Homo sapiens: one gene and its partner. The protein of the gene in region 1 purifies or fractionates together with the protein of each later gene. This does not show direct contact. Each region holds a gene or a part of one and is shown on either strand. Other genes may lie near its edges.

Region 1 (4,824 bases):
AGAAAAGTGGAGCAAATTCTAAATAAAGGTAACCCAGTGAGATCGAGACAACTGGGAACAGTCTGGGGAGGCTGACCTCAAAAAGACAAGACACACATTGTTTCACTCGGAAATCTTTTTCCCCTTAAATTTCCTAAAGAAAGCAGAGATCTTGCATGCTTGCCACTGACTTGGAAAGCTAAGTGCACCTTAGAATGGATATTCTTGGCTCCATCTTTTGAAAACTTAGAGACTACACCATTAGAAAGAACGGAATACCGTCAAGGGTTTTAGTGATGGGTTCTTCAAGGCCCCAACTTTCTGCACATGAGAGTGTAGCATCAAGACAACCCCTTATCAGCCTGACTCTCAGTGTAAGGCCGTCTGACTGCAGGGGAGCCTTGCTTTACTCAGAGAGGCCACGGATCTTCTCTTTGCCTTCTAGCCCCTGCAGAAGCTGTGCATGACAGAGTACTCTGTCTTTCCAAAGCTGATTTATAACTGAAGGAGAACAAAAACTTGGTCAGAATCATGAATGCCCTAGATGCCTTTGAAGAGTGGAGAGACATGACTGGACTAGGGTTGGACTGGAAGAGATGGTCAAGAAGGTACTTAAGAAAAGGGGTGTCTGCAAGGGAATCACCCAGAGTCAGAGGCAAAACAGCCAGGAGCAGCAGCTTTGAGGCAGGGTTGGATTCTTGCTCCGGCAGTTAGAAATGCTGCAAACTCAGACAAGTTGCTGTTAGCTCAGCGGTAGGATGAGCCCTGATCCCTTTTGCCCCAATTGCCTACTGGATTCAAGGAGAAAATGGACAAGAAAGGGTTCACAAACCATTCATATTAGAAACAGACAAATATCCATTATATAACCAATGTTCCACCAGCTCCAATGAGAAGTAAGTATAATAGCTACTATTTTTGAGCACCTATTTTGTGCCATGCTTTTTCATCTATGTGTTTGAAACTTTATGGTTATTATCAGCCCCACTTTACATAGAGGGGAACTGAGAATCAGAGAGGGCAAGTGACCCTCCAAAGTTCATTAGCTGTTAAAAGGCAGAGTAGGGATTTGAACTGTGAACCTTGTTTCATTTTAGTTTAATGAGGACAGGTTCTTCTGGTGTCAGCTGGGTTCAGCAGGGTGTCCCTGCACCCCTCGCCCAGTGGCTGGCAGAGGATTTTTAAGAAGAGAGGAGGGAAGGCAGAAAAAGACAGGAGTAGAACATGAAGAAGTCTACCTCGGGGCTCCATTTTGTTCCATGTTGCAGTGAGGAACAGAGGATGAACAACCACCGTGAGGGGACAGGCTGAGTTACCACCCTGGGGTGATTTAACAATTCAGTAATGTATGAGTGTCATTCCGTATGTTTGAACTCTCCATTTGCTTATTGGCACCATAGTCCCTTATCTCTCTCCCTCTCGAGTTTCTTTCTCTTCTTTGACCTTTCTAGCCTCCTTATTTCATGCGTGTACATTCTTGTCTTTTTCCTTCTGCCTCTTCCCTCTTCACCAGTCGGACAGACTGTATCAGCGAATCCCTCTACAGTGTCGTATCTAACTTTTTTATTCATTGCATGATTTATTTTTAGCCTGAAACAACTGCATCCTAAAAATGGAGTTCCTAATGAGACAGAGGCTGAGCAGAGCTATGTAAGGTATCTGGGGCTTGGCCTCCCAGCCTCCCTAGCTTGGCTGTTTTTCTACTCTCATGCGTGCGTGCGTGCGTGCGTGTGTGTGTGTGTGTGCCTCTGCTCTTTGTCCTGAGCCCACGATTCCAGAGCTGGCTGGACCCAAGGAGGTGAAGAGTCACTTTTCAGCCCCAGGAAGGGCAAAGAAGAGAGAAAATCAGCCTGTCTGCTCTCTCCTTGGCTCAACAAGGCCTCTAACAGTCTTCTGTCCTCTATTCTGCACACAGCATATTTGGGAACGAGAAACAAAAGTTTTCCCAAATGAAGAGAACTCACTTGTTTATTGTGGGGATTTATTTTCTGTCCTCTTGCAGGGCAGAAGAGGGGCTTAATTTCCCCACATATGATGGGAAGGACCGAGTGGTAAGTCTTTCCGAGAAGAACTTCAAGCAGGTTTTAAAGAAATATGACTTGCTTTGCCTCTACTACCATGAGCCGGTGTCTTCAGATAAGGTCACGCAAAAACAGTTCCAACTGAAAGAAATCGTGCTTGAGGTAAGTAACCAAAGGGCATGCTGTCTGCGCTGCCTCAGTGAGGTGCCGAGGGAATGCCTTTGGCCAGGGGTTGGGATATGGGAACGAGGATGCAGAGAATATATACTGAACTCTGCTTTATTTTGGCCTCACGTGAATCAGATGCCCTTGTCACACAGCTGGGATGTGTGAACAATGAGGGGTGGGTCCTAACTCTTCAAATGAAGAGGACCAAACGTGCTACACTACGATGGGTCTGATGTAAAGTCTTTATGGCCCCCTTGACTTTTCAAGGGCCCTTGTCCCAGCCATTGTTTCCCAGATAGAATGTAGAAACTATTGTTAAAACTGTTGGCTGAAATGAAATCCAGGGACTACTTGTGGATTTCATTCAGTGTGCCCACTTTGCTCCCTCAAATCTCCCCATGATCCTGGAGAGACCAGAGTTACTTGACCTTGCGTCTCTCTGGGGGTCAGACGGAGAATATCACTAAATGACTTTCCTCTCTCTTGTTTTGCGTCAGTCAGCATTACAGAATGTAGTTGTGTGCAGATCTTCTGAGCAGCATATTCATTTATGTGATTTTTTTTCTCAGAAAGTTCTTGGTGTGACTTTAGGGCAGAGCTGAAGTCAGTTCTTATTTTATCCGCATTACATGGCCTGCCTGTTTGTAACCTGGCACTGGGGCCCATTTTCTAATCCTTTGCGAGTGCCCCAGAAACTATTCCTGCAGCTCCTCCTGGACAGCTTAAGATGGCTTACACTTTAAGAGGGCCTGAGGGTGCCAAGAATGCTAGTGGGCACCAAGATGCCTCATCAGTCTCCACGCCTAGCCCAGGCGCAAACCTGTGAAAGGGATATTTGAGAATTACAGTTTATTAACCAGCACAATCAGAGAACTCAGGTTGATGAAATAGTTTAATAGGATTATCATATAAAACCCATGTGGATTTGAATTTTTTCAAATTGAAAAATTGACTGTAATAAAATCCAGCAAAACTATCCCAAATACATCAAAAGTATATCTCCAACCTTGGGTGCTGAATGTGGAATTTCAGTTCTCTCTGTGGGTTGCAAGAAAAGAGAAAGCAGGGATAGTTATTAAGACTTTATTTTATAGAAATGAGCAAATCACAGGCTGGAAAAGAACGAGACATAGAACTTAGCTGCTGCTTAGCACATGAAACCAACACTTACATTATATCTCCATCTCAAACTGCCATACTCAGTTATCAAGAGACATTGTTATGAAAACTTAATTGAAGGCATAAGGATTCTCCCCTATATGCTCATCGCTGTCCAGTTAGCCTAGAACTCCAAAAGAATGCCTTTGGGTGGCCAGTACAGGCAAGGACATTCATTTCTGATTCTAATTTTTTTTAAAAAAGAAATATCTTTCTATCATCCTTCTATCTATCTATCTATCTATCTATCTATCTATCTATCTATCTATCTATCTATCATCTCTAGCTCCCCCAAGTATATCTGTCCCCAAAGACTATGCAAAATCATGAACAGAAACTTCCCCTGGGCTTACCATCCCTCCAGACACCTTTGATCCAAGAGTGCCCTTTTCACAGTGGGTGCCGGCCCAGCAGAGACCGATAAGGAAAAGTTCACCACAGGAGTTAATTTGATGCCCCTCAGGCTGCTAAAGCTGGAGTGAGGCATCATTAGGAGAAAAAGAACACAGACCTTGAAGTCAGGATATCTGGATTTAAGTTCTGGCTTTGTCTCTACTAGGCACAGGACACAGGGCAAATTACGTAATTTCTCAGAGCTTCATTTTCTTATCTATAAATATGGAAAAATAGTAACTATCATGCAGCTTAAGAAATGATTAAATAATAATAATGTTGATTAAATGCTTACTAAGTGCAGGGACTGTTCTAAGCACTTGGTATGTGTTAGCTTGTTTAATCCTTACAATAATTCTATTAAGTAGGTACAGTTACCAATTCCATTTTATAGATGTGGAAACTGAAGCAGAGAGGCTAAGTTGTCCAAGGTCACACAGCTACTACAGATGAAGGCAGTTGTACGTAACACCTACACGGTACTACTCCTGAAATCAGTGCGAAAACGCCCAAGGGGCTTCTGGGTAGCCTGTTTAAGATGGTTTCAAGAGTCTTCCTTAAACAGAGTTGCTCAGCCTCTGGACCCGGGTCTGATGATGCCAGCTGTACACCAGCATGGCCGAGAAGTACATGGCCTGGAGGCGCTGCTCATGCAAAAGTGCAAACTGAGGAGGAGGCCTGGGCTCCATTAGTGAAGGTTGAGGAAGGGGCGGGCCTTTGTTGAGATACTTGTCAGGCGCAGCATCAAGGGAAAAAATGGCTCCGGGAAGTCCATGAGTGGAAAGAGCGAACATGCCTTTAAACTTTCTTCATGGTCAAAACATCTATTTTGTCCTCTTAATCCTCTAGACCCCACACTTGCACTAAGAAAAATAGTCTGTCAGCTTCCAGGGCTGTGGCTGTTAGGGGGTAGGGGGAAAAGAGGAGGCAGTTCCCAGTGTCCATCCAACAGGCAGTGTGGTCTCAGCCACGGACAAATAGCTGGAGGGGAGGCAGCTCCCTTCCCCCTCGCAGCTTAAGGCGGCTTCTGACACTTTTTATCATAACCGACTATGACCCAGTATATACAGACACACACAGACACACACACACACCAGAAACAAAA
Region 2 (3,500 bases), on another chromosome or scaffold:
CCGTCAGCTAACAAGTGCTGGAGCTGGATTTGAACTCAAATAGTCACAAACTGTTATCTCCACACATTTATTTCTTGGTGAATTTTGAAAAATTGAATCAATTGGAATTGGAGCAAGGCATTAACCAGCCTAATGCAGAGAGTAATCATTTTCTTGGGTAAATCTTCGAAGGGAAGGAAATAGCTTGGGAATGATAAAAAGAAATTATTTTTGAGGAAAGAAGAATCAATGAAATGCTAAGTACAGAAAAGGTTATCTGACTGGAAAAGCATAAGCTCCTGTAGACCACTGGTCCTAAACTCCAGTGGACATCCCCAGAGTTACTGGTGCCTGACAGTCTGCATTTCTAATAAGTCGCCACGTGGTACTGATGCTACCGGTCTGGAAACCACCCTGGAGAAAGGGTGTGTGGCCAGTGTGTGAAAGAGGAATTAATCTGGGTAGCAGCATTCCAGGTGCTGGGAGAAGAGTGGAAAATCGGCATTTTTGGCAAGTGTGGGATATTGAAGCACAGGTTTTAGAGCTGTGCAAAATAAAGCACTGCTGCTAACAGAGGCTTTAGGAGGATGGCGCTGAGGAAGGATGTGAAATTCAGGCTGAGCATCCCTAATCCAAAATTCCAAAATGCTTTGAAACTGTTTAAGCACTGACATGATGCTACATGTAGGAAATTTCACATCTAACTTCATGTGATGGGTTTGTAGCCAAAACACAGCCAAAACTTTGCTTCATGCACAGAATTATTTAAAATATTGTATAGACCAGGTACGTTGGCTCACACGTGTAATTCCAACACTTTGGGAGGCAGAGGCAGGAAGATTGCTTGACCCCAGTAGTTCAAAAAAGCAGCCTGGGCAACATAGTGAGACTGTGTCTCAGCTAAATTAAAAATTAGCTGGGTATGGTGGCACACGCCTGTAGTCCTGTCTATTTGGGAGGCTGAAGCAGGAAGATCACTTAGGCCCATCAGTTCAAAAATGCAGTGAGCTATGATAGCACCACTGCACTCCAGCCTGGGCGAAGAGTGAGGCACTGTTTCTAAAAAATAAAAAAGTAAAATAAAATATTGTATAAAATTACCTTCAGGCCATGTGCATCAGGTATATATGAAACGTAAGTGATTTCGTGTTTAGACTTGGGTCTCATTTCCAAGGTATCTCCGTTAAAAAATTTTCCTTTGTGTTGCATGTTTTTAAAATAATTGAACATATTAAGTAAATTTAAAATTGTTACCTGCATTGTTTCTTGCTGCATAGGGTTTCTTAATATTTGGGATTTAAGGACCGGAAAGTACCCTGTTCATCGTTTTGAGCACGATGCAAGAATACAGGCACTAGCCCTCAGCCAGGACGATGCAACCGTGGCCACAGCTTCTGCTTTTGATGTCGTGATGTTATCCCCCAATGAGGAGGGGTACTGGCAGATAGCTGCGGAATTTGAAGTTCCGAAACTGGTGAGCTTTTTAGTCTGGTCATCTTATTTTCTATTCTTAGAATCTCTGGGTCTAATGTAAGCACGTACTAATGGTGTTGGTAACTCCCATTCACTCAGAGCTTCCTGCGGGCCTTACCTCCATAAGTCTAACTACAGCCTTACAAAATAGGTAGTAGCATTTTCCCCATTTACCAAGAAGCCACTTCAGGCTGCTTAGAGCAGTGAACTGACTTGCCCCAGTTCTCAGAGGTAAGAAGTTACGATTCAAACCTCAGGGCTGACTTCAGGGCCAGAGCTGCTCATCACTGTGGTTCCTTGGCCTTCTTCAGACTAACACGGTGGAATCTCACCCTTGGGAATCAAAGATCAGTTTGACCTAATATATAAGTGAGAATGAGTTCAGTGGTGTTATCCCAGTCCATCTGGGAAGGAAGGTTTCCATTCCTACACTTTCTTCATCCCAAGACTGTCTCACCTGAAATTTAAAGTAACTCTTGCGTGAAGATAGATTTAAGTTGGTGTTAATTGGGTAGCCATGTTCCAGGATGTCATGTGTGCAGCTCAGCCAGCCTTAAGAATTCTTTATGTCGAGCTTATTTCTGAGTTCATTGGTACAGGAACCTCTAGATTTGTAGAGTGGGAGATGATTTGGTGTTAAGAAGGAAGTGCTCAAATCTGTCTATGCTGAGTTAGGATTTAATTTAAACAAACTTGATTTTGGCACTGGTAGGAGAGTGAGCAGAAAAGCCAACACTGAGTGATGAATTGAGGGCCTGACCTGGAACCAATCCTGTTCCTCCCTCTTTCTGTCTGTTGGGAATCTTCTTAGACTAGAATAACTTAGAAAGCCATGGCATCACTGCTTCACCTCCAGGAGCGTCTGCACTTTGAGTATAGTGCTCCCCTAAAATGGCCTGATGCTGTCAGCTCATCTGGGTTTTATTAGAAAAATGTGAAAGTACATTTCTGTTCTCAAAACTTCCATAGTACTTACTATTTAGTCTGTGATTAAAGAATACTGTGTCACAAGGTCAGGAGATCGAGACCATCCTGGCTAACACGGTGAAACCACGTCTCTACTAAAAATACAAAAAATTAGCCGGGCGTGGTGGTGGGCGCCTGTAGTCCCAGCTACTCAGGAGGCTGAGGCAGGAGAATGGCGTGAACCCAGGAGGCGGAGCTTGCAGTGAGCCGAGATCGCCACTGCAGTCCAGCCTGGGCAACAGAGCGAGACTCCGTCTCAAAAAAAAAAAAAGACAAAAAAACAACAAAAAAACGAATACTGTAGACCAGCAATCACTGTATGGACCCAGATACTTACTTAAGATGCCAGTTTCTCTGTAAAGTGCAAATCCTGCCTTGGCAATAAGGTGGCATCCTGGCACAGACTGGAAGCTTTTTGAACTAGTTTACAGCCCCCAGCAAATGGCACCACCACTGTCAATCTGAGCCTCTTGGTCTGTCAGAAAGCCAACACGGAGATAAAGTTAAAGGGCTAGACGGAGGATATCAGTTGTAGGAAAATGAGACATGATTTGGGGGAGTGAGAGGAACCGAGCAGCCATTGTTCAAGGCGGGTTTTATGCACGTTTTAGGAATTATTTTTCACTTTGAGTGAAAGGTTCCCACAAAATGCTCTGAGTATCCTTGGAAAAGGCACCCCTGGCCCGAAGAGCCAAGCCAGTTTTGTCTTGTCCATATACGCCCCTGAATGGCAGTGGCAGTGTTCCCAGGTCTGCGATATTAGCCTAGTGCGGCTGTCCTTTGTGATGGACCCGCAGCTTGCGGAGCTGGGCCCGAGTATTAGCAGAGTCCCCCGGATGTTGACGCTCCCTCCAGCTCTTCTGGACCGTGTTCTGGAGGCCGGCTTTGAACTCTTTGGCATATGGTCAGGGCAGCGCTGTCCTTTCACACTGTGGATTTTCATAATTAGTGTGGCTCACCTTCTATGTGTCCTCTCGTGATTTACTCGCAGAGGCGAAAGCCTGTTGCGAACGGCACCGCGGAGAAATGGGCCGCCTGTGGATGGACAGAATCAAATTATTCTTGAAAAGTGCGTCTCAGAC

The links.
Region 2: the proteins of CASQ2 (region 1) and FBXW8 purify together in Homo sapiens (affinity purification with mass spectrometry; 3 studies listed by BioGRID and IntAct, with this or other methods). This does not show direct contact.

The regions. Positions count from the first base shown.
Region 1 is NC_000001.11:115,765,646-115,770,469, reverse strand, and holds the start of CASQ2 (calsequestrin-2 precursor), read left to right. Parts: upstream 1-1,755; 5' UTR 1,756-1,928; coding exon 1,929-2,162; intron 2,163-4,824. UniProt on the Homo sapiens protein: Calsequestrin is a high-capacity, moderate affinity, calcium-binding protein and thus acts as an internal calcium store in muscle. Calcium ions are bound by clusters of acidic residues at the protein surface, especially at the interface between subunits.
Region 2 is NC_000012.12:116,983,950-116,987,449, forward strand, and holds part of FBXW8 (F-box/WD repeat-containing protein 8), read left to right. Parts: intron 1-1,233; exon of another isoform or gene 1,234-1,256; coding exon 1,257-1,453; intron 1,454-1,704; exon of another isoform or gene 1,705-3,388; intron 3,389-3,500. UniProt on the Homo sapiens protein: Substrate-recognition component of the Cul7-RING(FBXW8) ubiquitin ligase complex, which mediates the ubiquitination and subsequent proteasomal degradation of target proteins.